Regions from separate parts of the Homo sapiens genome. Here region 1 is linked to region 2. Evidence: fine-mapped expression QTL. A gene starts in region 2. The other region holds a variant in brackets. All regions are shown on one strand. Distances are from middle to middle.

Evidence for each region. PIP is the estimated chance that this variant, and not a neighbour inherited with it, causes the effect.
Region 1: its variant is the best candidate, but not a certain one, in a credible set for the expression of HIGD1A in sigmoid colon (GTEx, PIP 0.56).

What each region holds. Positions count from the first base shown.
Region 1 is chr3:42,703,289-42,719,142 of GRCh38, forward strand. It overlaps CCDC13 (coiled-coil domain containing 13), which reads right to left. Exons shown (of 16, transcript NM_144719.4): 14 at 9,874-10,028; 15 at 6,396-6,510; 16 at 2,468-5,851. The coding sequence ends at 5,692. It overlaps HHATL-AS1 (HHATL antisense RNA 1), which reads left to right. Exons shown (of 3, transcript NR_146957.1): 2 at 861-944; 3 at 2,759-3,477. Among named protein-coding and RNA genes, the nearest start is that of HHATL, 8.4 kb to the left of the region's middle. The variant T/C (reference allele first, on the strand shown) is at 7,313.
Region 2 is chr3:42,793,997-42,808,861 of GRCh38, forward strand. It overlaps HIGD1A (HIG1 hypoxia inducible domain family member 1A), which reads right to left and starts at 10,494. Exons shown (of 4, transcript NM_014056.4): 1 at 10,440-10,494; 2 at 161-279. The coding sequence starts at 257. It also overlaps the pseudogene MIX23P4. RefSeq lists a silencer at 10,450-10,669 and an enhancer at 11,531-12,328.

The sequences.
Region 1 (15,854 bases), 90 kb before region 2:
GGGATCCCCATAAGTCAGCCCTGTCCCATAGGGAGTGTCCTGGATGGAGGGGTGCTAGCAGGGTCACTTGGCAAGGCTTGTGGGTACTTGGAATGGCTGGTATCCTCTCGGTGGCAGAGTGGAGGCAGACAGGAAGACAGGTGTGTTCCTAACCAACTGGGAGTCCTGGTAGGACAGGGCCCTCATTCTGGAAGGGAGCATCCAAGGCCTCAGCCCTGGATACCTGAGGGGAGGGGCATCCTGAAGGTGCCCCTGAGATTAAGAACCTCTGACAGTGCCCCTTCGGTTGAGGCCAAGTCTCGGGCAGCTGTATGTGTCTGTGCTATCTAGGGGGACCTGTTCACCTGTGTGCTTGTGGGGAGGCTCTCGGGGGTAGAAGGAGCTTTGTGGCTGTGATCAGTCACAGGACAGCTCCTGGAGCCCCTGCTGATCCTATGACCCCAGCTTCAGGCTCAGTTGAGGAGGCAGGAGGGAGGTGCTGCTCCCCACCCATCAGGGCCCAGGAAGGGGAGAGACTGCACTTAGGCAGGGAGCTGCCTCCCGAGCACATAGACACGCTGGCCTGGAGAACAGCAAGGAGACGCCCAACCTACACACTCCACACAGGACACAGAGGCCCGTGTCTGTGGTCCCCGACCCTGAGAAGCATGAATGGTGACTACTGCACAGTGTGGGTGCTGGGTTAGAGCTGTGGTGGGTAATGGGCACTAGAGAGGCCAGCATCAGGAAGGGAAGGATACCTGAGCCAGACTTCAGGGTTAAGGAGGGCTTCCTCAGGGAGGGGTAGTCAAAGGTTGTTAGGAGTAAGTTAATCATAGTAGCCAGGATGTACATGGATTAACTTTTTAATGTCACCACAGCCCATAGGGAAGATGTTGCCACTGTACGCAGTTGGGAGAAGAAGGACCTGGCACATGAGGAAGCCAAGTAGTTGGATCAGCCCTGTAAGCTCCTGGCACTGACTGCCCTGCAGGGGCGACAACCCCGTGCACCCACACTGGGGCCCTCACGAGGCTCCAAGAAAATGGCTCAAGGGAGCAGACAGGGTGGTTTGACCCCAGAGTTAAGAACACAGGTTCAGCCAATTTACTTGACCCTGAGCTGGTGTGACCCACTTCTTAGGGCCTCAGATCCTCAGTTGTAAAATGGGCATACCGCTGGCCCTGGCCCTCACTGGGGTGGCAGGGGGCATCCGGTGATTCACTCCATGACAAGAGCCTTGCTCATAAACAGAGGCTATTAGAGAGCCACAGACACCCTGACCCCCAGAGGCCCAGAAAGGCTGGATTCACACTCAGAAGTGAGGCCTTCCCTGGGTGACCCACACACAGCAGGGTCTGCAGGGAGTGTGGTGTGCGGAAATGGCAAGAGGGGTGGAGGGCTAGGGAAGTCCCATGGATCTGTGGTTGGACAGCCTGAGGCCAGCTCCACTGTGTCTGAGGGGGGTGGCAGGGGAGGGCACCTGGCAAGGCCAGCCCACGTGAGGGACAGGAAGCTGACTGAGCTAAGACCAGCACTTGGCCCTGGGGCCAGCTTCCCAAATGCCACAAGGGCCACTAGGAAAGATATGGTGGGGAGTGGGGACAATTCTCTCAAATCTGAGTCCCTTTTCAATTTTCAGACTTTTTTTGTTTGGTTGTTGCTCAAAGTAAAAATGCGAGGAAAGTATCCTGTGTGTTTGCATGTACGTGTGCAACTGTGTTTTGTATCAGTTGTGTGTGGGTCTGTGTGTACGTTTTGTGTTGTAGGTTGTTCATGGCATGTGTTTGCTGTGTATGTGTATCCTGTGTATTGTGTGTGCACATGTATCGTACATACGTGTGTATATGTGTGTTGTGTGTGTGCAAGGCTCACAGATATAGGAGAGTCAGTGTACGTAAAGGCACACCTGTGGGGAGAAGGTGGGCAGGCCGACTTCTTTGTGCTCAGGGCTGGCTGTGGGCTGGCTGGGGGTGGGGAGGAGAAGCTTGTTCTGGCCCCTGGGTGTGGGGGTGCAGAGGAGCACACCCACTGGAGGTCACCCTGCCCTGGGCTCCTGGGAGCAGGGGAGGGGCCCAGTGACAATGTAGTGTGTTTAAGCCTGAGCCAGGCTGCAACCTTGCCCAGCTCAGCTGTGGTGCCCCAGAGGCCCCTGTGGGGACAGTGGCCAAACTACGTCCACAGCTCAGCCAGGTCTCACCTGTCAGTGCTGGAACCTGAGCACCAAGACCTGCAGCACCTGCCTGGGGTGTGGCAGGGAGAGCCCTCACTTGAGGCAACTTCACCACTTAACTCTTTACTTGCCCCTGCCCCTCAACCCGCCAGGGCACCTGCACCCTCCCCTCCAACTACCTCCTCGTGGATCTGGCCAGGGCCCTTGGTGTCTTATCCAGCACACCTGTTGCCCACCTGCCTGAGGGACAGGGAGGTCATCCTCAGGGTGCCCAGGACAGATGGTGCTACCCAGGAGAGGCACTGGTACTAACCTGGACAGACCAGCTGCCTGGCTGTGCACCTGGCCCACCTAAGTTAGGTTTCTCAGGGTCCCTATCTTTGACCCCTTTGATGACCTCCTTCCCTTGAAAATCCTTCTCCCAGGCTCTCCCCACCTTCCCTTTACTCCTCCTTGCTCCTTTGCCTCAGGGAGATGTGAAGCCCCCTCTCTACCCAGATCTGATCAAGGAGGTTGGGAACTTGGGAACTGCCACAGGGATGGGGTGGGGATGGTGGGGGAAGCCCTGTGGTGCTGCAGCCCGGTCCTGCATCCTTCCCCACCCAGCTCCATCATGGCGTTTCCCACACCTCTGATTGGACTGGAAACTCCCTGAAAGGAGGAAGCAAGTCAGATTCACCTCTAGGTCCCTCCCAGGCCTGGAGAGGCTGGCATGCTGTTGGCACTCACTGACTGCCTGGTGGCCGACTGGCTGGATGGAATGGTGACCTGTGACCAGTCTGTCTCTCTCCTCAGCTGATCTGAGAGTTCCTGGAGGCCAGGGACTGTGTTTGCCTCACCTCGGCACCTCTGTGCCTGGGGCAGAGGAACTGCTCAACAAGTTCTGGTTGAACAAATGGAGGGAACACTAAGAGCGAATAATTATTAAGCGCTTACTGTGTGCGAGCAGCTGCTGTAAGCAATGGACACTTTATCTCAGTGAACCCTGCAGAGGGTTCCAATGAGGGAATGGAGCAGACCTGATCTAACCAAGCTAGGGGTGGGGAGGTGCCCGGTGGTAGGTGCCAGCAGACATGACAGGCACTCCCGCACATGGCACCACAGCAATGCTGTCAAGGTTGCCCGTGGAATCTGAAAGCTGAAACACTCATCTTTATATACAGAGTTGGCCAAAGCAAGACACCAGCAAATCAGTTTACCCAAAAATGTGCAAACAAGATTTCCTGTGCCTGCCTGTCTGCAGTTTTTCTTTCCCCTCTCTCTTATATAACTCTTGTTGAAATCAGTCTATAGATACATGTTCCTTGTACAGAAATAAACAGAGAGCTAATAATTAGTGAAACGTCTTTGGGTTATTCTTTGACATACATATTAATAACAGCCCCCTGAGGGAGGATTCTATTATTGTCTGCATTTTATAGATGAGAATGTGGAGGATCAGAGAGGTTAAATAACTTGCCCAAGGCCACACAGCTGGTAAGTGGGGAGAGAAGTATGCCCCAGGCAGCCCCACCTGTCCAGACTCCATGACCTAATGCTCCTTCCTTTCTCAGGCATAGCCCAGGAAGGGCAGCAGAACCACCCTGAAGTGGCTGGAGTGTGGGTCACACCATCTCTGCACTTCCCTGAGGTGATCTTGAGGAAGGATGGCTGATCCTATGCCTGCTTCTCACTCCCTGGGACTGCACTGAGGCCAGAGCCTGTACCCCTCATACTCAGATCACCCTCTGGAGCTCCTCAGGGCCTGCAGGAGAAGGTGCTGACTCCTCTGTGTTCAGACTCTACATCCAGCCCACCCCTCGCTGTCACACACTGTCCCCTCCAAGCACAGACCCTCTCTCTCCTGGCTCTCTGCCTGGCCGTTTTCCTTCACAAGGAACCAGAGAAAAACTCTTCCTTCCCAGAGACCCTTAGGACCCCACCAGAATCATCAGTTCATCCCGGTGGCCTTTGCTCTAACTTGCTGTGGGATCTCTAGATCCGTGTGACCCCATGCAGGGTCAGGGGCTCCCTGAGGAGTGGGGGCCAGCTAGGGTCCCTCCATAGCCCCATCCCCAAGGAAGGGGCTGAGAAGACAGGGTCCCAGGAGCCGCAGTGGCTTTTCCAAGGAAGGAGCTGACAAGATGCTCGCAGGAGCCCCAGTGGCTTTTCCTGGGGAAGGGGGTGTTTTCACAGTATGTGCACCTGCATTTGTGCATCACTGCACAAGCAACACACAAGTGGCTATGTCTTCACGTGTGGGAATGTGTGTCCACATCCACATGTGTGTGCTCATCTGCACCTGTGTGTCCATGAGTGTGCACACATGGAGGTGCCTGTGTGCACGTACAGTTGCATGCTCCTGAATTGAGGTATGTGTGTGCATCTGCATCTTTGTGTGGGGCTGTGGGTGCACCTGTGTGGCCAGGGTGTCGGAGTTGGGGTGTGTGGCTATGAGTGACCCTCCTTGGGGCCACTCCTTCCTGTAGCTATAAGTGCATAGTTACAGCTGAGAAAGGGCAACACTGACAGTCATAGAGGCCTGCGGATCTTAGGGTGCCCCTGCAGCATCCCTCCAAGTTCACCATGGCGAGGGAGGTGCACTGTACCTTTGACTGGAGCCACTACCTCAAAACCCTTCTGCCTGAAGCTCCAGCTGAGCCCCACCTCGGCCCTCTGCCACCAGCATCCATCAGCAGTCTTGGTGAGCAAACAAAGATGCCTCTTGGAGCTGCTGCCTAGGGGTGGGGTTGTTCAGTGGTGGGTGGGTGCGCCTACCCTGGGTAATCTCTGAACGGCAAGACCCTGGTTTTGGGGTCAGGCAGACTGCAGTTAAATATTAGCTCAGCTTCTTTCTGTGAACCTCAGTTTCTTCATCTGTCAAATAAGACAACAAACCCCTGGGTCATTAGAGGACTGAATGGGGTCAGGTTGCCACAGTAGATGCTCACTCACTGGGAGCTGCAGTGATTATGAAAATACTTATTATTATTACAAGTCCAAGGGTCTGCACCTGAGGAAGTGTCCTGAGGAGTGGGCTGACAAACTGGTTGAGAGCATAGTGCCCCAAGTCTGTGTAGGGTGTGGACGGCTACAGATGGAGCCGGGATGGGGGTGAGGGGATAGGGCAGGGCTGAGTGGCATGGGGGATATGCCCACTTAGGGTAACCAAGGGCTCTTCTGTGTGTGAAGCCATGGGGACATCCAGGGCTAGTACCTAGGATGAGGGCGATGAACACCTGCCCGAGGGACTGCATCTGTCCATTCACAGCCGCCTTGCCATCCCAGAGCTCTCGCCTCTGCCAGTGGGCTGCTGGGCCTCCCTGCTGCTGTAACCCAGCCAGCCCAGGGTCTCCTGCAGTGTCCCACCAGGGCTTCTCTTCTGCCTTCCTGGCCTGAGACATTGGTTTTGGTCATCCTTAAGGAGCCTCTTCTGGTAGAAGTGGTTGAGCTGGCTGCCCTGGGCTGGCTTCCCGGAGCAGATGGAGTCCTCAGACAGAGTCTTATCCTCTCAAGACCTGAGGCTGCCCACCCGGCCAGGCCGACACTGGGCTGTCATCCTATTGCTTGCCTGTCTTCTGCTGCCGCAGGGCCTGCAGGAAGACACTTTTCACCTGGCCCAGGATCTCATGGTACATCCGGAAGTCCTCCTCCTTTCCCCGCAGGGCACTGCCCAGGGCAGCCTTTAGCATTTCATTCTCCTCCACCTGGATGGCCAGCCTGGACCACAGGAGACAGTGCTCAGTGTGGCTGGAGCTGCACACAGGTGTGCGTGGGTGACAGAGGGCCCTGGGAATGTGGTTGCCAGCATGGCTGCTCTTCAGGCTCAGGCTTCCCTCTGACCCATCCCCTCCTCTCACTGACTCTTGTGGGTACCATGGATTCCTCTCTATGGGCCTGGCTCCCTGCAATGTAAGCTACCTCAAGGCCCCTTACAAATTGAGTTCCAATTTGTAGAGGTTCCCGTCTTTCCCTTCCCATGGCTGCGTGGGGTCTTAAAAGGTTTAACGTAGTGAGAAACTGGTTCAGTGATCCATGCTTGATAAAATTTCTCTTGGACTATGGGTCATTGGGGTTTGGGCCGGGCCCTCTGTCCTCTGAAGGCCAGTCCCTGAATTGCAGGCCTAGAACCCAGGACCAAACAGGACAAGCCTTCTGGGCAAATGAGTCAAAAGTGCAAGGGGAGGGACACAGTCCCTCTGCCCATGGAGGCACCTCTGCTCAGACAACCCTACCCTTTCAGGAAGGCGGGGCAGGGGAGCACCTGGTTGTCAGCTCTTCCATTTGGGATTCCACGGGCACATCGGAGAGCTGGGCAAAGGATGGGTCCTTCTTCTCGCTCCCGGTTGGGTTGTGCCTGTTGTTAGAGGTGGGCAGACCTGTGGGGCAGCAGCAACCACTTTCTGTGAGGAGGCCACAGCCCTGTGCTAGCACCCTGCTTCTCCTCCCGCCATTGCCCACTGCCTGCTCTTCCACATGGTGAAACGCTACACCGCCTTCGGGGTGCAGGGCAACTCTGAGCTCTGCCTCCCTCCGAAGCCCTCCCTGATGCCTCCTCTGCATGCCTCTGCCCCTGGCTTTGGCCTCTGCTACAGCCCTGACTCTGCTCGCTTTGTACCAGGGTGGTTCCTCACCACCCTGTCTCCATCTTTATACTTTACAAGTTTCTGGTAATTTGTTTTCTTTTTTTTTTCTTTTTTTTTTTTTTGAGACAGAGTCTTGCTCTGTCACCCAGACTGGAGTGCAGTAGCGTGATCTCAGCTCACAGCAATCTGCGCCTCCAGGGTTCAAGCGATTCTTGTGCCTCCCGAGTAGCTGGGACAACAGGTGCCTGTCACCATGCCCAGCTAATTATTGTATTTTTTGCAGAGACAGGGTTTTATCATGTTGGCTAGGCCTCCCAAAGTGCCAGGATTACAGGCGTAAACCACCATGCCCAGCCTGGTAATTTGTTTTCAAAAAGAGAAACCAGCTGAGCCTGAGGTCTGGCCTGCAGGCTGAGCCCGAGTCTAGACTGTCACTGTACCTGATGCCCTCATACCAGTGGTCCCCATCCAGGCCATCAGCTTCATACTAGGAAGCAGGGGATCCAGGGTCCTGGAGTTGAAGGGTACAGAATGTTCACAAAAAGGAGACAAAGTGGCCCACGGTGGGGTGGTCCCAGAACTTTGGGAGGCCAAG[T/C]GGGGGCAGATTGCTTGAGGTCAGGAGTTCAAGACCAGTCTGGCCAACACGGTGAAACCCTGTCTCTACTAAAAATACATAAAAATTAGCCAGGCATGGAGGCATGCACCTCAAGACTAGTCTTGTGTAAACCTGTCTCATTGCTGGGGAGGCAGCAGAGTGGCTCTGCCCTCTACAGGGGCTGGACTGAGTGTTCTTCAGGGCCTTTCCTGGCTCCAGGGGACACTGCTAAGCTGCCCTTGGCTTATTCCACGCATTGAGCACCTCCACATCCCCAACTAGAGCTGCCCTGGATGGGAAACTGCTTGTTCAGCCTGATGGAATTTTCTAAGCCCTGTGACACAGGGAATCAAAAAGAGCCTCAGCCGGGTGCGGTGGCTCATGCCTATAATCCCAGCACTTTGGGAGGTCTAGGGGGGTGGATAATTTGAGGTCAGGAGTTCAAGACCAGCCCGGCCAACATGGTAAAACACCATCATTACTAAAAATACATAAATTAGCAGGGTGTGGTGGCGAACCCCTGTAATCCTAGCTACTTGGGAGGCTGAGGCAGGGGAATTGCTTGAACCAGGGAGGTGGAGGTTGCAGTGAGCTGAGATCGCACCGCTGCATTCCAGCCTGAGGGACAGAGTGAGACTCTGTCTCCAAAAAAAAAAAAAAAAAAAAGACAAAGCTCAACTGGTGGTGGCGAACTTGGGCAAAATCACAGCATCAGAAAACCTCGGGACTGAAAAGGCCCTCAGAGGTGGTGTGACCCACAGTAAATTACTTGGTATCAGAAGACCTGGCTTTCGCCCTCTGCTGAGAGGCCTCAGGCAAACTATCAGCCTCTCTGAGCTGGTTTCCTTAGCTGAAAAAAAGGATAATAGTTTATGCCTCTAGAGCTTTGGCAGCCTCAGTGAATTCTATTTGGCTCTCAAGGCCCTGTGTGATTGGACCACTCCAGCCTCCCTGCCTCCTCCCTGTTCCTCCAAGCATCCAGCTAAGCTTCCAAGCACCGACACTTGTCTTTCCCTCAGGGATCGGCAGGCCACATCCCCTCCCAGTTCCTCCATCTCTGCTCAGATGTCTAGCTCCCCTACTGGAGTGAGACTGCCATGGGGGACTGAATTATAAATCTAGCCTCCTCATTTTACGGATGGGCCAGGGGGAGGCGGGTAAGTGGTGCTCTGCTCACCAGAGGGGCAGGATTTTGCCCATGTTAAAAGCCAGTAGGCAGCAGAGGCCACCTGGACACTTTCCCTCAGGCAGCTGCCCTCACTGTCCAGCAGGGAACAAAGTGACTTGCCTGCTGTGGCTTAGCTCTCCCTGGTTGGAAGTCCTGCTGCCCTACAGGAGGTAAGCCCCAGCCTGGAGAAGCCACACTCCTAGGGAACATATTCCTGAGAGTCCAAGAGGGTCAGCAAGGCTAAGCCCCAGAGACCCTTCCTTCCCGGCCTGGATTCTCAGAAGCTCCTGGCCCTGCTGGTGGGAGAAGAGAAAGCAAGTGGCCCCAACACCCTCTTTATGCCCTACTTCTGGCACACCCTTCTGAAACGTTCTGACCTCATCTGGGCTGAGGACTGAGACCAAGGGTCTGACCATCCTTGGCTGGGGAGGGGTTGGGGGGCTACTGGGGTGTTGAAAGAGGGTGCAGTGGGGGCAGCAGCACCTCCAGCATTCCAGCCTGGAGGGGGCTGGGATGGGTGGGATGGGAGGTCAGACAGAGGCAGGCCCAGCCCCTCCACATTGGAGACCCTTCCTCCCTGGGAGTCAGCCATCCCAGAAATGGCTTCTGGCTCTGGCATCCTCCAGCTCGCCCCAGCCCCACAGGATGCTGATGCTGCTCATCTGAATACTGCACCTTGAGAACCACTGTGTTCGAGCGATAGACTTTTCAGTTAAGGATAGCATTTCCCAGCTTCCCTCTGCACCTGGCTATGCCCAACTGTCTGGCTGATGGGATGAGAGCAGAAGTGACATATGCAACCGTAAAAGGTAAGGAGAAGTTTGTCTCCTTCCCTTCTCCCCTTCCTGCTGCTGATGGGAAAGCTCAGGCAGTCATTGTAGACCAGAAGATGGAAGCTGCATGTTGAGAACAGTGGAGCCACAAAACAGAGGGAGCTTGGGTCCCCAAACCTCTGGTGAGGCTACTTCCTGCTTATATCAACTTGACCATTGCAGGAGGCACAAAGGGACTCCTCCCCTGCTTCAGCCACTGTTGCTTGGGCTTCCCCAGCAGACCAGCTGTGCCCCATGACCACTTTGAATGAAGTCAGCTTAGGATAGAGGGTTGAGGGCTAGGGTGGCTGGGGGCATTCAGCACTGCCACCTCATGCTGAGGGCTTACAGGTGGCCAGGCCAGGGCCACACGAGGCAATGGAGCTCTGGGGCTCCTGCTTCTGACTGAGAGGCCTGGGGAAAAGAACACCCCACAGTGGAGGCAGGCAGAGCTCCACCCTGATGGAAGCTCTGCTTCCCACATGCTCACTGATGGGCTGAACAGTGCAGCTGCCTGGCTCCTCTGTTAGCAGCAACACTGCCTCCACCCCCTGCACTGAGACTACTGCCCTGGCCCCTACCTGTTTTGGTCCTGGGAGCTGCTCTCTGGGAGGCTGATGCCTTCCCTGGCTCCAGGCGTATCTTCTCCAGATGTTGCTCCAGCACCACGGTGCGGTGTCGCTCCTCCTGCAGCTTCCTCTCTGACTCCAGGAGCTTGCTGTTGCTCTCCTCCACCCTGGTGATTAGAGAGGAGGGGATGCTACATGCCCTGGCAGGCAGGGGCAGGCCCTACCCCACTTGCTCAGGCCCTTAGAGAGATGGGCACATCTTACATTGGTAGTGATGGGACCTCTTCATTTTCATTGCAGTAACACAGGAACATGCATTTAAACACCATATGGTTCTCTCCAAGGTTAAAATTTAAAAATTATCAGCCCACTCCCAGCCCCATCATTCCCAATTCCTGCTCTCTAAAAGCAATCACTTATAACACTTCTAGCTGTTTCTTTTAATATTTACTGCCATATTTCTACAGATGCTTATGTTGCTATTTTTAGGTTTATATAAGGTTTAAATATAATCTTTTGACTTCCTGTCATGCAAAATAAGAATTTAGTTTTATTTTAGTACTCTCCTCCTACGAAACAGAATCACCTGTATACGTTTTTGGATGAATTGATATTAGGTATCAGTTTTCTATCACAGCTATAACAAATTACCATAAATTTAGCAGCTTAAAACAACACAAATCTATTATCTCACAGTTCTGTAAGTCAGAGGCCTGGCAAGCTCAGTGGGTTTCTCTGCTTCTGGTTTCACAAGCCGAAATCAAGGGGTTGGCTGACCTGGGCTCTTATCTGGAGGTTCCGGGGGAAAATCCACTTTCAGGCCCATTCAGAGTGTTGACAGAATCCAGTTCCAGGTAGTTGAAGGACTGAGGTCCCTGTTCCCTGCAGGCTGCTGGTCAATTTCACCTTCTAGGAGCCACCTTGCCCCCTCCATCTTTAAAGCCAGCTAGATACCCTTAACACACTTTGAATCTCACTACCCTCTCTGACTTCCTCCACAGCAACTCTCTGAATAATCCCAGACGGAGATATTTCTCTGCTTTTAAGGGCTCAAAAGATTACATTGAGCCCACCAGATAATCCAGGATAATCTTTCCATTTTAGGGTCCATAACAATAATCATATCTGCAAAATCTCTTTTTCATGTAACATAAAGCACTCACAGGCATAACAGCAGGGAGCAAAGGGCATAGACACCAAAAGCCTGTCTACGTTAGGACAATTAGTTAGAGCCATGACGCACAGTGTCATATGTCCTTTCTCATTTAATTGTTCGCTTTTCTTGGAGTTAGTGATTATCTTAAGCTTATTGTTTTGTTTTCTACATGCCTGTCATAAATGTTATTTCACATGAAGCACTTGTTTAATCCCACTGGAGCTTGAGCTTAGGTCCTTCCTGTGGCTAGGTGTGCCATTTCAGACTTCTATGATACTAAAGGTTCATTTAGTGAGAAAGCCAGAACTCCCTGAGATCTAACCCAAGCCAAGAGTTACATGCACACCTGAAAATTAGAGGGGCAGCCTTGAAACTGACAGTGTTGGAGGAAGTGATCTTTCCACCTTGGTGAAGGGTCAAAAGGAACAGAATGACAACAATTTTGAACAGTATACAACTACTAATAAAAAGCTGTATAGTAACACAGTAAACAGCTACTAACACATATTTAAGCATATTCCTTGAGATTTTATTTGCAAAAGCAAAAACCCAAAACAACCTAAAGGCCCATCATCAGGGGACAAACAAGTAAGTGGTAACATATTCATACTATAGAACGTGATAGAATATGATAGAGCTGTGCTGCCCAACACAGTGACTGCGAGGTTCATGTCCACATGTAGCCATTAAAATTAAAGTTCAGGGGCTGGGCCCGGGGTCCCACACCTGTAATCCCAGCACTTTGGGTGGCCGAGGTGGGTGGATCACCTGAGGTCAGAAGTCTGAGACCAGACCAGCCTGGCCAACATGGTGAAACCTCGTCTCTACTAAAAATACAAAAAAAAAAAAAAAAATTAGCTAGGTGTGGTGGCATGCTCCTGTAATCCCGGCTATTTGGGAGGCTGAGGCAGGAGAATCACTTGAACCAGGGAGGTGGAGGTTACAGTGAGCTGAGATTGTGCCATTGTACTCCAGCCTGGGCAACAGGAGCGAAACTCTGTCTCAAAAAAAAAAAAAAAATTAAATTTCAGGCCACGCACGATGGCTCACGCCTGTGCTTTGGGAGGCATAGGTGGGTGGATCACTTGAGTCCAGGAGTTCAAGACCAGTCTAGACAACATGGTAAAACCCCATATCTACAACAAAAAATACAAAAATAAGCCTGGCACGGTGGCGTGTGCTTGTAGTCCCAGTTACTTGGAAGGCTGAGGTAGGAGGACCACTTGAGCCTGGGAGGCAGAGGTTGCAGTGAGCCGAGATCGCACCACTGCACTCTGGCCTGGGCAACAGAGCGAGGCTCTGTTGTAACAAAAAGAAAAAAAAATAAAGTTTATGAAAATTAAATTAAAAATTCATTTCCTCAGTCACACTAGTGACATTTCAAGTTCTTAAACTGTATTGGTCAGTGCAGATACTGAACAACTCCATCATCACAGAAAGTTCCACTGGTCAGTAGTGGAGTGTGTTAGTTATCATGAGAGTGGGTTTCTGATAAAGGATAACTTTGTCCCCACTTCAACTTTCCCCATGCCATTTCCCTTCTGCCTTCCACCACGGGATGCGGCAAGAAGGCCCTTGTCAGACGCTGGCACCTTGATATTGGACTTCCCAGCCACCAGAGCTGTGAGAAATAAATTTCTTTTCTTTATAAATTACTCAGTCTGTGGTATTCTGTTATAGCAACACAAAATGGACTAAGACACATCCTTGGACCCAGCTGGGTAACATACCTGAACTCCAGGACAAGGAGAAAAATCTTATAACAACAGCACAGCTAATACTTTTTTTGAGTGCTTTCCACATACCAACTACTGTGTTAAGGCACTGCATAAGCATTATTATGTTTAATTCTGTAAGTAAACAAGATGTACTAATATTACTTCAAGAAGACACAGAAAATCTAAATTTGAAAAAAGGTTGTCAAAGATCTACCTCCAAAAAAAAAAAAATCAGGTCAAGCCAGGTTCTCAAGAAAGTTCTATCTAACCTCCAAGGAACCAATGATTTTTGCTATTCTGACAATTCCACAATATAGAAGAAATAGATGGCTTCCTATAAGTTTACAAAAAACTTGATTTCCCAGTTAATAATAGGGTAAATGTATTAGTACTGCTGCATAACAAGTTACCACAAATAGTGGCTTGAAACAATAAAAAATTTCCAAAAAACATAAAGAGCTACTACAACTCAACAACAGGACAAACAACCCAATTAAAAAGTAGGCAAAAGACTTGTGTTTCTCCAAAGAAAATATACAAATGTCCAATAAGCACATAAATAGATGCTCAACATCATTAGCCATTAGGGAAATGCAAATCCAAACCACAAAGAGATATCACTTCAAACCTACTAGGATGGCTATTATTGAAAAAAAGGAAAATAAGTGTTGGTGAGGATATAGAAAAATTAGAACCCTTGTACACTGCTGGTGGGACTATAAAGTGGTGCAGCCATTGTGGAAAAGTTTGGTGGCTCCTTAAAAAGCTAACCATAAAATTACCCTATGATCAAACAATTCCACTTCTCAAATTGAAAACGGGGACTCAAACAGGTACTTGTACAGCAATGTTCTTGTAGCATTATTCACAATAGCCAAAAAGGTGGAAACAATCCAAGTGTCCATCAACAGATGAATAGATTGACAAAATGTGGTACATGCACACAATAAAATATTATTCAGTCATAAAAAGGAATGAAGTTCTGACATATGCTACCATACGGATGAACCTTGGAAACACTGTGCCAAGTAAAATAAGCCAGACACGAAAGGGTAAATATTGCATGACTCCACTTATACAAAATATCTAGAATAGGCAAATTCATAGAAAAGAGGTTACTGGCTGGGCATGGTGGCTCATGCATGTAATCCCGACACTTTGGGAGGCTGAAGCGGGTGGATCACCAGAGGTCAGGAGTTCAAGACCAGCCTGGCCAACATGGCGAAACCCCATCTCTACTAAAAATACAAAAATTAGCTGGGCATGGTGGTGGGTGCTTGTAGTCCCAACTATTTGGGAGGCTGAGACAGAAGAATTGCTTGAATCCGGGAGGCAGAGGTTGCAGTGAGCCGAGATCATGCCATTGCACTCAAGACTCGGCAACAAGCGAGAATCCATCTCAAAAAAAAAAAAAATAAGTAAAGAGGTTACTAGATGCTGGGCTTAGTGGGTGGCGTATGAGGAGCTATTGCTTAATAGTAATAGAGTTTCTGTTTGTGGTTATGAAAAAGTTTGGAAATAGAGATAACGGTTGCACAGTATTGTTAATGTAATCAGTGCCACTGAATTGTATACTTTTAATGGTTAAAATGACAAATGTTTGGTGTATATAGCTTACCACAATTAAAACATACATATACCACACAAATTTATTATTTCACAGTTTCTGTAGGTTAGAAGTCCAAGGTTGGCCTAGCTAATTTGTCAGTGTCTTACATGGCTGAAGTCAAGGTGTCAGAAGGAGTTGCTATCTCATCTGATGCATGGGATCCTTTTCCAAGCTCACTCAGGTTGTTAGCAGAAGTTAGTCCCCTGTAGTTCTAGGACTGTGGTCTCCATTTTCTTGCTGGCTAATGACTTGGTTGGTTGTCAGCTCCTAGATTTTTCTCCCTATTCTGGAGTTCAGGTATGTTACCCAGCTGGGTCTAACGATGTGTCTTCGTCCATTTTGTGTTGTTATTGCATAATACCACAACCATCCACCGCCATGTTGTTCTCTCCAAAGCACAGTGGTTTTGTCAGAGGCGTTTGAACAAGAGCAACTCCATCTTAAATAGGAGCTGGGTGAAATAAGGCTGAAACCAACTGCTGCATTCCCAGATGGTTAAGGCATTCTAAGTCACAGGATGAGATAGGAGGTCAGCACAAGATACAGGGTCATAAAGACCCTGCTGATAGAACAGGTTACAGTAAAAAAGGTGGTCCAAACCCACCAAAACCAAGATGATGATGAAAGTGACCTCTGGATGTCCTCACTGCTACACTCCCACCAGCGCCATGACAGTTTACAGATGCCACGGCAATGCCAGGAAGTTACCCTATATGGCCTAGAAAGGGGAGGCATAAATAACCCACCCCTTGTTTAGCACATCATCAAGAAATAACCATAAAAACGGGCAACCAGCAGCCCTGGGGACTGCTGTGTCTGTGGAGTAGCCATTCTTTTATTCCTTTACTTTCTTAATAAACTTGCTTTTGCTTTGTGCTGTGGACTCGCCCTGAATTCTTTCTTGCATGAGATCCAAGAACCCTCTCTTGGGGTCTGGATCGGGACCCTTTCCTGTAACATCTTTCTGGTGGCCACTGAAGGGACTAAAGTGAGGAAACCCCCAACTCAAAGGTTAACTTTGCATAAGTGTTGGGGTCCTGTAACATCTTTCTGGTGACCACGGAAGCGACTATAGTGAGGAAACCCCTGACCCAAAGGCTAACTTTGGGTAAGTGGTGGGATCCAGTAACATCTTTCTGGTGAACCACAGAAGGGATGATACTGAGGAGAACCCCCCAACCCAAAGGAAATAGACTTCAGCACTGATTGGATGACTTTGGGTAAGTGGGGTACATAAACCCAGGTAAAGGATGGGATTGGGTTAGAGGCCCAACTTAGGGGAGTTAGCATCTCTCCTAAGACAAAGTGGGTCAGAGGCCCCTCTTAATAAAAAACAAAGATGCTTGACTGACCTTGGGTTAGAGGCCCAACTTAGGAGGGTTAGAGTCCCTTCTAAGATGTAGGGAGTTAGTGGTCCTCTCAGTAAAGTTCCTCTCGGTAAAGTCCCTTTCAGCTAAAAATGGGTTTGGCACTCCGGGATGTTAACTGCTATTCTCTTTGGATTAATCTG
Region 2 (14,865 bases):
ATACAGAAGAATCTTTATGATGAGATTTATATCATGCCAATCTCAGCATATTTCAACATAAGAAAAAAATGGAAAATACATTCTTTCAGGATATTGCTAAATGAACAAATTATCACGGCTCTACCATATTCAAGACTACTAAAATGTCAGTCAAACTTACCAACGGGTACGAATGGTGCCTCTTTAGCTTTTCGAATGAGTTTTGATCCCTGATCTTCCTCATATGAAGGAAGGGAAACACCTGTGTCTGTTGACATAGTGATTGCTTGAAGAATCTCCCTGAGAAAGAATTTCTATGAGGTTCTGTAATTAAAAGCATCTGAACATTATTAAATATCTGGATGTATTTAAAATATTCCTAACTTCCATGAGAATCTTAGTATATGTTATCCATAATCCTAAAGTTAAAAAATATTTTTAGAAATTAACTGTATTTTTAATGTACAGTCACTCTCAAGGGAGAGTTGTATACACTTATTCCCCCTATTATTTTGCCGTTTCCCCTGTACAACCCATTCATTTTTAGCACCATGTTAATTAAAAATAGTGAAAAATTTTAAATTGATGTTACTTTTATCAATTAAAATAGTAGCTACTAATTTTCTGGCTATCTTCATCCTTAATCAACTATTTAACTTGACAATTTTAAGTTACTCAAACCAAACTGACAACTCCTATTGAACCTTCAATATCATGTTGGAAATCCTACTTAGCACTTTTCGGTGTAGTTAAATGCAGTCTTTATTGCTTTCAACTGCTGATTTATTTATTCCAATGTGCTTCCTTGCTTCAATTTTCACTTCAGATTAGTTTCCAGTCTATTACAGTAATCTGTTATCCATGGTGGTTGCCTCTGGGGAAAAGATTATTCTGAATAGCCAAAGTTTCTACCTAGCTCATTATTTACTCATTTTAAGAACAAAGCTTTTATTTTAAATATTGGTAGAAATGTCTCCTTCATAGCCTTTTAGATTTTTTTAATGACCTATGATTAGTTTTTTTTCTTTTTTGAGACTGAGTCTTGCTCTGTTGCCCAGGGTGGAGTGCAGTGGCACGATCTCGGCTCACTGCAACCTCCATTTGGCACACACCACCGTGCCTAATTTTTTTGTATTCTTTAGTAGAGACAGGGTTTCACTCCTGACCTCACGTGATCCACCCACCTCAGCCTCCCAAACTGCTGGGATTACAGGTGTGAGCCACTGTGCCAGCTTATGATTAGCTTTTTTTTTTTTTTTTGAGATGGAGTTTCGTTCTTGTTGCCCAGGCTGGAGTGCAATGGCGTAGTCTTGGTTCACTGCAACCTCTGCCTCCCAGGTTCAAGTGATTCTCCTGCCTCAGCCTCCCAAATACCTGGGATTAGAAGTGCCTGCCACCATGCCTGGCTAATTTTTTTTGTATTTTTAGTAGAGATGGGGTTTCACCATCTTGACCAGGCTGGTCTCGAACTCCTGACCTCAGGTGATCCACCTGCCTCCCAGTGTTGGGATTACAGGCATGAGCTACCACACCTGGCCCTATGATTAGCACCTTTTAACATCACTGCAGCACAAAACTGAATTACCCTCAGGGTCTTCTTAATATCTTCTAAGCTTCAGATCTGCCTTCATTTACATACCTTATATCCCCTAGGCTTCCTTTTAAAACTCTACCCTCTTTTTATAATTCCTTTAAATGGTATCCCAAAGGCAAGATCTAGCCTGATAGTGTATGAGTAAGGGGATAGGAAAAAAAAAAAAAGGATTCATTTTCATTATCACAGGGATCAAAGGCTCCTTTCCTCCTTTTCAGTCATCTCCGTGAATAGCCCTTTTATCACAATGAGGCATTAACAAATGCTATTTCATTTTAGCCACAATAACAAAGTATACTTTCTTCACTGAACTATTTTGAATTGCAATAAACTTTACTCACAGATAAAATAAGGGCCTGAAGCATAGTGTAAGCATACAAGTCTCTAATTAGTGTCAATTACAATAAACTTAAAAGTCTATGCCCATCCTAACACCCATATAAAATCTTACTTTCACTTCTGGGTTTTTCATGTGCATTATGCTCCCTTTGATAAAAGTACCTCTCATTCAACACCTTGCTACTCAAGGGGAGTCAGTGGCAGTTAAGGTCCTCAACAAAAATGCAACTCCGGAGGGGGTGGTGTGCTTAGTTTAGAAAGTGAATTCATCCCTATAAGCCTCACCTTCATTGAGAAGACTCAACTGTCATCTGACATAGAAGAAAATCTTAGCTAAATAAAAGAAAATTTAGATTGGACTTAAACCTTCTTTTTGTACTCCATTACTTCTTAACTGAATAAACTCCTAAGTAATGAGCTTTATTATATATAAGGTTCAATAAGCTCAAGGTTCAAGATACTCACTATATATCTGAATAATACAATATAAACACTAAAGTAATTAATCGTTCAAAAATTAGTTGTTGTTTTTTTTTTTAAAAAAAAAAGAGAAATCATGTAACCGCCAAACAGGTTCACCTTGCCCGCTGGCTAGACAGAGCTGATTTACCAAGACAGGGGAATTGCAATAGAGAAAGAGCAATTCACCCAAAGCCAGCTGTGTGGGAGACCAGGATTTTTATTATTAGTCAAATCAGTCTCTTGGAGCATTCAGGGATCAGTTTTTAAGGATAATTTGGTGGGTGGGGGAAGGCCAGAGAACAGAGTGCTGATTGGTTGGGTTGGAGATGAAATGGGAAGTTGAAGCTGTCCTCTTGTGCTGAGTCAGTTCCTAGGTAGGGGACATAAGATCAGACGAGCCAGTTTATTGATCTGGGTGGTGCCAGTTGGTCTATCAAGTGCAGGGTCTGCAAAATATCTCAAGCACTGATCTTAGGAGCATTTTAGGGAGGGTTAGAATCTTATAACTTCCGTCCCTCTCCCTCTCCCTCTCCCTCTCCGTCTCCCTCTCCGTCTCCCTCTCCCTCTCCCTCCTTCTCCGTCTCCGTCTCCGTCTCCGTCTCCGTCTCCCTCTCCCCACGGTCTCCCTCTCATGCGGAGCCGAAGCTGGACTGTACTGCTGCCATCTCGGCTCACTGCAACCTCCCTGCCTGATTCTCCTGCCTCAGCCTGCCGAGTGCCTGCGATTGCAGGCACGCGCCGCCACGCCTGACTGGTTTTGGTGGAGACGGGGTTTCGCTGTGTTGGCCGGGCCGGTCTCCAGCCCCTAACCGCGAGTGATCCGCCAACCTCGGCCTCCCGAGGTGCCGGGATTGCAGACGGAGTCTCGTTCACTCAGTGCTCAGTGGTGCCCAGGCTGGAGTGCAGTGGCGTGATCTCGGCTCACTACAACCTCCACCTCCCAGCCGCCTGCCTTGGCCTCCCAAAGTGCCGAGATTGCAGCCTCTGCCCGGCCGCCACCCCGTCTGGGAAGTGAGGAGTGTCTCTGCCTGGCCGCCCATCGTCTGGGATGTGAGGAGCCCCTCTGCCCGGCCGCCCAGTCTGGGAAGTGAGGAGCGTCTCCGCCCGGCCGCCATCCCATCTAGGAAGTGAGGAGCGCCTCTTCCCAGCCGCCATCACATCTAGGAAGTGAGGAGCGTCTCTGCCCGGCCGCCCATCGTCTGAGATGTGGGGAGCGCCTCTGCCCCACCGCCCCATCTGGGATGTGAGGAGCGCCTCTGCCCGGCCGAGACCCCGTCTGGGAGGTGAGGAGCGTCTCTGCCCGGCCGCCCCGTCTGAGAAGTGAGGAGACCCTCTGCCTGGCAACCACCCCGTCTGAGAAGTGAGGAGCCCCTCCGCCCGGCAGCTGCCCCGTCTGAGAAGTGAGGAGCCTCTCCGCCCAGCAGCCACCCCATCTGGGAAGTGAGGAGCATCTCCGCCCGGCAGCCACCCCGTCCGGGAGGGAGGTGAGGGGGGGTCAGCCCCCCGCCCGGCCAGCCGCCCCATCCGGGAGGGAGGTGGGGGGTCAGCCCCCCGCCCGGCCAGCCGTGCCATCCGGGAGGGAGGTGGGGGGGTCAGCCCCCCGCCCGGCCAGCCGCCCGGTCCGGGAGGTGAGGGGCGCCTCTGCCCGGCCGCCCCTACTGGGAAGTGAGGAGCCCCTCTGCCCGGCCAGCCGCCCCGTCCGGGAGGGAGGTGGGGGGGTCAGCCCTCCGCCCGGCCAGCCGCCCCGTCTGGGAGGTGAGGGGCGCCTCTGCCCGGCCGCCCCTACTGGGAAGTGAGGAGCCCCTCTGCCCGGCCAGCCGCCCCGTCCGGGAGGGAGGTGGGGGGGTCGGCCCCCCGCCCGGCCAGCCGCCCCGTCCGGGAGGGAGGTGGGGGTGTCGGCCCCCCGCCCGGCCAGCCGCCCCGTCCGGGAGGGAGGTGGGGGGGGTCAGCTCCCCTGCCCGGCCAGCCGCCCCGTCCGGGAGGTGAGGGGCGCCTCTGCCCGGCCACCCCTACTGGGAAGTGAGGAGCCCCTCTGCCCGGCCAGCCGCCCCGTCCGCGAGGGAGGTGGGGGGGTCAGCCCCCCGCCCGGCCAGCCGCCCCGTCCGGGAGGGAGGTGGGGGGGGTCAGCCCCCCTGCCCGGCCAGCCGCCCCGTCTGGGAGGTGAGGGGCGCCTCTGCCCGGCCGCCCCTACTGGGAAGTGAGGAGCCCCTCTGGCTGGCCAGCCGCCCCGTCCGGGAGGGAGGTGGGGGGTCAGCCCCCCGACCGGCCAGCCGCCCCGTCCGGGAGGGAGGTGGGGGGGGTCAGCCCCCCGCCCGGCCAGCCGCCCCGCCCGGGAGGTGAGGGGCGCCTCTGCCCGGCCGCCCCTACTGGGAAGTGAGGAGCCCCTCTGCCCGGCCACCACCCCGTCTGGGAGGTGTGCCCAACAGCTCATTGAGAACGGGCCAGGATGACAATGGCGGCTTTGTGGAATAGAAAGGCGGGAAAGGTGGGGAAAAGATTGAGAAATCGGATGGTTGCCGTGTCTGTGTAGAAAGAAGTAGACATGGGAGACTTTTCATTTTGTTCTGCACTAAGAAAAATTCCTCTGCCTTGGGATCCTGTTGATCTGTGACCTTACCCCCAACCCTGTGCTCTCTGAAACATGTGCTGTGTCCACTCAGGGTTAAATGGATTAAGGGCGGTGCAAGATGTGCTTTGTTAAACAGATGCTTGAAGGCAGCATGCTCGTTAAGAGTCATCACCAATCCCTAATCTCAAGTAATCAGGGACACAAACACTGCGGAAGGCCGCAGGGTCCTCTGCCTAGGAAAACCAGAGACCTTTGTTCACTTGTTTATCTGCTGACCTTCCCTCCACTATTGTCCCATGACCCTGCCAAATCCCCCTCTGTGAGAAACACCCAAGAATTATCAATAAAAAAATAAATTAAAAAAAAAAAAAAAAAAAAAAGAATCTTATAACTTCCAGCTGCACGACTCCTAAACCATAATTTCTAATCTGTGGCTAATTCATTAAACCTACAAAGGCAGTCTAGTCCCCAGGCAAGAAGGGGGTTTGTTTTAGGAAAGGGCTGTTACCATCTTTGCTTTATTTTTCTATTTTTGTTTTATGAGACAGGGTCTAGTTGCCACGCAGGCTGGAGCACGATCTCGATCTTTGCTCACCGCAACCTCTGCCTCCGAGGTTTGAGTGATTTGTGCCTTAGCCTAACAGCTGGGATAACAGGTGTGCACCACCATGCCTGGTTTTTTTTTTTTGTATTTTTAGTATAGATGGGGTTTTGCCATGTTGGCCAGCCTGGTCTCAAACTCCTGGCCCCAAGTGATTTGCCCGCCTCAGCCTCCCAAAGTGCTAGGATTATAGACGTGAACCATCATGCCTGGCTCCATCTTTTTTTGGCTAGGTCAGATCTCTTTCACTGTCTCAGTTATAATTTTGCAATGGTGGTTTCAATCACAGTGTAATTAGTTGTCAAAAGCCTAACACAGACAAGGTCTGAATTTAGAGAGAGTGATGTATTTTAGCTAAAGGAGGTTTGGCACGTTTCACAGAGAAACACTTGAGACTGGCTTTGAAGAAACTGCATAAATGGACTGGATAGAGAGATTAAACACTGTATTTATTTTAGGCCAGTATGTTTACTAGTTGCCTTCATATCTAATCATGAACTTCTCGGGCAGGTGCGGTGGCTCATGCCTGTAATCCCAGCACTTTGGGGCACCAAGGTGGGCAATCACTTGAGGTCAGGAGTTCGAAACCAGCCTGGTCAACATGGTGAAACCCCCATCTCTACTAAAAATACAAAAATTAGCTGGGCATAGTGGTGTGCATGCCTGAAATCCCAGCTACTTGGGAAGCTGAGGCAGGAGGATCGCTTGAACCCGGGAGGCAGAGGTTGCAGTGCGCTGAAATTGTGCAACTGCACTCCAGCCTGGGCCACAGAGAGACTCTGTCTCAAATTTTAAAAAATAAAAGAAAAAGAAAAAGAAAAAGAAAAAAAAAACATGACCTTCTCAAAGGGGAAGTTTATCACAAATCCTTTCATTTCCCTTCCCAACCCCACATTCTGACCACATTAAATATTTTTAAGATGCTCTCTATACCTCTAAGCCTTTGCACAAGCTGATTCCTCTACTTGTGAGAGTTTCCCTCCCTTTCCATCCCCTTCAGATACTCTTTCCTAGCTAACTCCTCCCATTTTTTTTTTCAGGTTTGGTTTTTCTTTTTTTACACTGAGTCAGAACATTATTTTAATAGTTACAAAACTTTTTTTTTAACAGAATCAGTATAAAATAGCAGTTGATTTCTCCATAATTATCAGAATTATTTATATTTGAGGTCTTGCCTAAGTGGGGCTGAAATCAACAAAAGGTCTTGGACTACTGGCTCAGAAATCATCCTAGGAAGCCCGCCCTGTTGACATTTGTCATGCTTAGCTCTTATGAGATGACCCGGTCCTTTAAAAAAAAAAAAAGTATCTCCGTTTATTCTGTTTATTTGGAGGTTTGAAGTGAATTCGGCAGCATTCATTAAACTCCTTCCAGCTCCTGTCATTTATCATTCTGACTACATCCATTTCAACTTTGCCTGCTCTGTTCTGAGTTGCTTTAACAATATTAAATCGTCCAAATTCTTTTCTCTCTCTTCTCAGAGGTTTTTTACTACTGCTGAGGTCTGGGCTATATAGTTTTTTATGACTCTGTCCCTACTGGCATGAGCTGCCATCAAAGACTCAAAGTTGTTTACAGGTTTGGCTGGCATCAATCTTCCCTGCAAAGGAAGCTGTTGGAACTGTAGTGTTTAATTAATGTACTAGTCTGTATCAACTGTCCACATCACCTTGAGTAATTCCTGGAACTCGGCGAACTCCTCACAGTTCACACTGCCACTGGGTGCCACCATACTGGACTCAGGTTCACATCTTAATTGACCTCCTCTCAGAAATTTTTGTCTCTTTAAGTTCGTAAGTGCTTTGGTTATGCAGTCCCATAGGACCTTGTACTTTCCTTATAACCCTTATAAGCACCAGTTTGTCTGTTTCTTTTGCTAGAATCCTTCAAGTCAGGGACCAATACCTGCTCTGCTTGTATCCAACTCCACTGCCTGGTGCAATACCCTATATATAATATGTACACTACAAATGTTTCTTGAATACATTTAAAAGTTACATTTCTCAACAACTGAAAGCATTCTTAGGTTATTCAGTAATATTGAGTACAAAAAAATAACAATCATACAGATTTGTAGAGTTTAATCAGTAAGAAAAATGCCTAACTGTATGTACCTAAGTGCTTATTTCTTTTATGTTTCTTATATTGTACCTATGAAAAGAGAAATAACCTGAGGTCTTAGTTCCTTGCAACACAGGGGACAAAACTATTATATACCATAATCCACTTTTAAAAACTAAAAACTTCTGCAGATATAAAAGCATGTTTTCCCCTTTTTTGCCTGAATCATTTCTAAACTAAAAAATCATTTGGGAATTGTCTTTAAAAGCAAGAAAGTTGGTAGCCGGGCATGGTGGTGCACACCTGTAGTCCCAGCTCCTCAGGAGGCTGAGGCAGGAGGGCTGCTTGAGCCTGGAAAGTGGAGGTTGCGGTGAGCCATGATCCAGCCACTGCACTCCAGCCGGGGCAACAGGCAAGACCCTTGCTGAGGGACCCAACAAACAAACAAAAACAGGACATAAATCGTTTTTTAAAAATAGCAAGAAAGTTGGTAGTTTTTCTTATAATTATCTCACATCTGGCTGACTCTAATTCTCCAACAGGTCAATGGAGCAAAAGGTTTTTTTTTTTTTCTCCTTTCAGGAGGGAGGGGGTTAGTTGTCTCTTTCCTGTATATAAATCAAGAACAGAAGAAAACCTATTTCTCCGTTCTTCATCTATGATACAGACTCTGAAGCTTGTATGGATAGGGCATTTGACCTGGGTTTCAGAAAGTAGCCCCTGCGGTAAGCATCAGGGTGTGGGGAACAAAATGGTCATTATTTGCTTGAAACGACAGATGATAATCTGTCTGTGATTCCAGAATACCTTATGTGTACATTTCAGAATAAAATTAGTAAGGATTAATATTTAAAAATCCAACACATATCAGTTATTTGTTATTCTGTAGTCAAAATATTATAATTCCCATATAGTACATATCTAAAATACTCTCTGAATACAAAATTTTGATAACTGTCTAATTACCACGTAGAAGTTTCCAAAGTATTCATGGTTTATAGCCACCTGAATTGAAAACTGGTTAAGTATCAGGAACAATAAGTTCTAATCATATAATTTGAGAGTAACAAATCAGATGAATAATCCAAGCCAATAGCCTTATTTTACAGGTGGGGAAAGGGTTGTGAGAGGGTTATACGAATTGCTCAGTACAAGGAATACATGTCTGGTGGGGTAGGATTAGAATCCAGCTCTTCTGATAGAGAGTCCTGGGTTCTTTTGATTGACGATATATTGCCAAAGCATCAATCTTACGCTGCTGATGTAAATTAGATTAAATTGGCAGATAAGAATTCTGATTAGAAAATTTAAGAATCCATTACTCAACAGAAGCCCACGTTGTTCTCTTTGAATGATATATATAAAAAAATCATGCCTAAGGTAAACGGAATCTTCTTCAGTGACTTAACTCATCTAACAATTTCAATTGTGATTTGAAAAGACTTTTTTCACTACACCACTGCCAGACTTTCCTTCATTATCGTTTTCTCATCCACCCACAGTAGTTGTCCCAGATTTCTGTCAGAAAGTTGAATAGACGCTAAAAAAGGCACCAGTAACCAGATATTTAAAGTCAGTTTGGAGAGCACAAATTAATTCTGTACGCTTAGTAAGACACGACTGAAGACCTTTCCACAGGGAACCTAAAGAGGCATTAAGGGAAGATGAGCCGTCCAGCATCAGGAGACGTAACAGGTTGAATGAAGGATCTTTCTTCACAGTCATTTTGTCACGGGAATTACTATCTAAAGCAACGCTGGCTTCAAACTGATTTTGCATCAGTCGCCCATCAGCTTGTTTAAAATGGCTGCCAAGGCCCCAGCATGGAGATCCGGATTCAGGTGGTCTGGGGCAGAGCTCAAGGAATCTTTAAGAAGCCCCTTCAAGTGACTCTGGTGCACAAAGAGAACTCCTAGTATACAGGACTCCAAATATGTGTGTCATGCTGGAGCTTCATGACCAGGTTGTCACCGCTTCAACCTGTTAGAACTTTCCATCCAAACCTGTCTTACTCCAAAGTGCCTTTGTACTTCCGGAAGCAGGGATCCCTGTCGTGGGGATTACTCCGAAGAGGGAAATAGCTGCTTCCCACTCCGGGAATTTAAGACAAAGGCGAATATCACTGCTGCATCATGTCGGCTGCTCCTAATTCTGCCCTTACGCTGTGCTTTGTAATCTCTAACCCGCCGACTCGGCAGGAGAAAAATTTAATTCGGTCACAGAAGCACTACACAGGACCCTAGGCCTTATCACTTTCCCAGGGTGGAGGAAACACCAGGTCGGGGAGAAAAGCAAGACCAGGACTGGAAGGTCCTCTGCTAGTACGCCCTCCCCTCAACCTCCCGACCTTCCTCGCCGCCTCTCTTCCTGTGACCTTGTCGTGACTCCGTGACCGGAGCGCTCGCTCTCCTATCCCGCCTCGCCTGCCGCTTAGCCCGCTCTTCAGAATGTTCCAAGCTCCGGGGAAGCTCCCGCTCCTCGCTCCCCGCCGTCGGGCCCAGTCAACACCCTCCTGGCCCCCGTCTCTCATTACCACCCCATCAGCGAGTCTTCCCCGCTCGGCAACTCACTCCACAAGCTTCTGCTCCATCTCCTCGCTGGCTCCGTCTCCCCTCACCCGAAGGACCCTAGGCCTCGGCTCCCGACTCCTCTCATCCGCCCATGCTCGAGGCCGGGCCTGAGCCCCGGCAACTCCACCTCTCCTCCCTCATTCGAGACACGGACTCCCAGCCCCCACCCCCAAAGTCCTTTCGGCCTGGCCAAGCGCTGCCCCACTTCTTCCCGCCCCGCGGCCCGAGTCCCTGGCTCGCAGTCCCCCGGCTTGTTTCGCTTACCTAGAGCGAGAAAACCTCTCACACCCCAACCGGCTTCCGATCCCTGCAGGCGCACCCAGTCCTCCCGGCTTCTCCCCACCCACAGCCGTCCCAGCCAATCAGAGGCCAGCGGCCGCAAAAGGACGCGTGCGTGTGCGCGGCGGGTGGGGCAGTGCAGAGCGGGTCCTGGATTGGCTGGGCCGGTGAGTGCTGGCCCACTACCCCGGCTCTAGCGTACTGGCGGAGACAGACGTGAGAGCTCGGCGCCTGGGGTTCGCGCCCGGGCACTTGAGGGGCTTTGGCTCCTGGCCCAAGGACTCCTCAGATTTCTCCTGCCCTTTTCCCCTCGGGCAGCGGAGGCGAGCACCGCGAACGCCGTGTCCCGAGCGCCGCCGCCTGCGGACGCCTCACGGGCCGGGAAGGGATGCGGGTGAGGGGTTTCGGCTGCGGGTGAGGTTGTGTTCCCCGACCCACCCGGGTCCGACTGCTTGTTCTCGCCGTTCAGTAACGAGATGCAGACAGACTGGGAAAGAACGGAGTTTATTTCTGCAACAGGTTACAGGGAGAAGGTCGGAGTAACTCACCAGACCAACTCAAAATTATTAATACAAGTTTTTCTAGTGCTTAAATACATTCAGTGCATTTACAAGTCGAAAGCCAAAGTGTTTCACTCAAGCCAATCTTTAACGGTAATAGGGTCAGGTGTCTAGACAATTGCTTCAGAGCCTTGGAAATAATCTAAAGTGGGTCCTGGTACAAGGTGTGCAAGAACAACTCCATTATTTTAATTAAACTCTAGGGGTTGAAAAAGCTCAGGCGGGATCCTAATGGACTTGTCTTTACATTCTAGCCTTTCTCCTAAGGCACCAGTTTCTCCAATGTTTAACTTATACATGCATCAGAATGACAGTGAGGCGTTGGTGAGAGCTGCTCTGGTTGCTAATGGAGATCTGGCCTGCCACAGTGGGAGCAGAGCTTGCCCAGTGCGCCGGGACGACTGCGGGCTCCATCCATTCCGCTCCCAGGGCGGTTGTCGGCCAGGACCGTGAGCTGTCAGGTCCCCCGCGGGATCCTTCCTGGAGCTTACACTATAGTAGGAGGCAGCCAGTACTTGCAAGCACGGGGTCGCGGGAACTACGACCTCACCCAGGCCAGGCGACCTTTCTCTCAAGAAGGAGATGTCAGAGGCCCCTCGTGACAGCGAGCTTCCGGGGACAGGGCTCCTAATGTGTTTGTCAAGTAAATAATGAGTAATAATCCGGCCAATTGGTGGGTCAACGAAAAAAGTCAAACTCTAAGATATTTGAAGAGATTTATTCTGAACCAAATGTGAGTGACCGTGGCCCCTGACACAGCCCTCAGGAGGTCCTGAGAACATGTGCCCAAGGTGGTCCAGGCACACTTGGTTTTATACATTTTAGAGAGGCATGAGACATCAATCAAATACATTTAAGAAATACATTGGTTTGGTCCAGAAACGGGGGACAACTCAAAGGCGAGAGGGGAGGGGGCTTCCAGGCTATAGGTAAATTTAAACATTTTCTGGTTGATAATTGGTTGAGTTTGTCTGAAGACCTGGGATCAACAGAAAGGGAATGTTCAAGTTAAGATAAAAGATTGTGGAGACCAAGGTTCTTTTGAAGTCTTGTAGTGGCTGCCTTTAGAGACAATAGATGACAAATGTTTCCTATTCAGATGTTTGAAAGGTGCTAGACTTTTAATCTCTTTAGGATTGGGGGGCCTGGAAGAAAAAGATCTAGCTATGTTATAGGGATTCTTTACAGATGAGAATTTTTCCCCGCAAAGGACAGCTTTGTATGGCCATTTCAAGATATGGCAAAGAAATATGTTTTGGGGTAAAATATTTTTATTTTCTTCCTTGTCTTATAATGTTATGCCAGAGTCAAGTTGGAAAGTAAGTCACGATATATAGAGTTAAATAAAACCCATTTGATGATAACTTATTATTTGTGGGGCATGACTCCCCAGACCCCTTAGATAGGAATTTGGGCATGATAAAAAAAATCAGAGCTTAGTCCTCAGATGCAAAGCATCTACAACTGCACCATGGAGAAATCTGTGATTAAGTTAGAGTTTCTTGATATAACCACAAAACAAGGCAGACTACCAAGTGCTCGTCATACAGATAGGAACTAAATGTCATGGGCTCAGGATTTTGAAAATCGTTCATCTCATAATTAAGATACATGTAAGAAACATTTCATGCTATGGATGATTAAGAACTTCATACTTCGCTGGGCACGGTGGCTCACGCCTGTAATCCAAGCACTTTGGGAGGCTGAGGCAGGCGGATCACCAGGTCAGGAGATCGAGACCATACTGGCTAACACAGTGAAACCCCGTCTCTACTAAAAATACAAAAAATTAGCCGGGTGTGGTGGCGTGCACCTGTAGTCCCAGCTACTGGAGAGACTGAGGCAGGAGAATGGCGTGAACCCGGGAATCGGAGCTTGTAGTGAGCCAAGATCGCACCACTGCACTCCAGCCTGGGTGACAGAGAGAGATTCTGTCAAAAAAAAAAAAAAAAAAAAAAGAGAGAACTTCATACTTTGATTATATGGTAGCTTTCAGCTCCTTGAAGGCACATATTTTGTCTGGATGATCCTGGTATCTCCTTGAATGCTGCCTGTGTGCTCAATAGAAATTCAATAATGGTAAATGAAGAAAGATGTAAATGCTGCAATAACTGGAGGGTTTAAAAGATAAGTAGGGATAGTCAGGAACTATAGGATAAACCCCACTGCCTTCAATATGAAGGTCAACCGGAAGTCATTAGTCTCTTGATTCTGTAAACACAAAGGCTAATGGCAGCAGTGACCAAAGCATATTCATTTCTGAAGGCAATGTATATGCCTCAAACTAACATCAGCTAACTTGTTAATTTCCAGAGAATAAGATATACTGCCCCATCAGCGGAGAGCAACTAGTTGGCAACATACTAGCCGTGACCTTGGATTTGATTTCTCAAAGTGTCACTTTTTTCACTTGTAAAATGGGGGGTAACATGAATGATGGTTAAAGAGGAAATATATGTAGCATGTTAGCCCCATGCTTGGCATGAAAAATGTTAGCTATTGCTTTAAAAATTCCTTGCTGTGTACTGTGCAAAAAGAGTCAGACCTTGCCCTTGAAGCTGTAAGTATAAGCACCTTTTAAACCAATTACTATTAGGGCTCCCAATCCAGACCCCAAGAGAGGGTTCTTGGATCTCCTGCAAGAAGTAATTCTAGACGAATCCATAGAGTACAGTGAAGGCAAGCTTATTAGAAAAGTAAAGGAATAAAAGAATGGCTACTCTATAGGCAGAATACCCCCAAGGGCTGCTGGTTGCCTATTTTTATGGTTATTTCTTGATTGTATGCTAAACAAAGGGTGGATTATTCATGCCTCCCCTTTTTAGACCATATAGGGTAACTTCCTGATGTTGCCATGGCATTTGTAAAATGTCATGGTGCTGGTGGGAGTGTAGCAGTGAGGATGACCAGAGGTCACTCTCGTCGCCATGTTGGTTTTGGTGGGTTTTAGCTGGCTTCTTTACTGCAACCTGTTTTATCAGCAAGGTCTTTATGACCTGTACCTTGTGCCAATCTCCCATGTCATCCTATGACTTAGAATGCCTAACCTCCTATCTCATCCTGTGACTTAGAATGCCTAACTGTCTGGGAATGTAGCCCAGTAGGTCTCAGCCTTATCTTACCTAGCCCCTATTCAAGATGGAGTTGCTCTGGTTCAATCATCTCTGATGATTGATTGGTATAAAGGTCAAATAGCTAGTAAGTAATAGAGGTAGAGGACTGTAAACTAGGAATTTTGATTCCGCTATATTTTAGGAATATAGTATCGCTCAACAGCAAGTAATTTTTAAGACATAGAAAGGAAATACATTTTTATATATAAGCTGGACTCTATTCATAATATTAAAAAATAAGGATTTAGACAAATTATAGGATGACAGATCCACATAGATAATTTAAGGAAGTTAGATATGCACTCTATGGCTACAACTGTGTGGAAGATGCACATTTGTCCCCCAAAATCTCTTTATTGAGGCTACTGGTATACACTACTTGGTAGAATTGTCATTAGTCTGACCCAGTTTGAATGACGGTTGAATTTAGGAGAAAAAAGTCCCATCTTTCGACAAAAGTGTACCAGCCCTGTCAGTTTAAGGGAGAAAACATAAACAGAGGCAGTGTAGGGGTGGAAAGGGGATGATCCCTTTCTTTCCCATCATAAGCGTTACAGCTAACACTCCTATAACAAAAGACAGGTTAACAAGAGAAAATTACTAGCCTGGACAACATGGCAAAACCCCGTCTCTACAGAAAATACAAAAATTTGCTGGGTGTGATGGTGTGCCTCTGTAGTCCCAGCTACTCAGGAGGCTGAGGTGAGCAGATCACTTGAGCCTGGGAGGTCAAGGCTG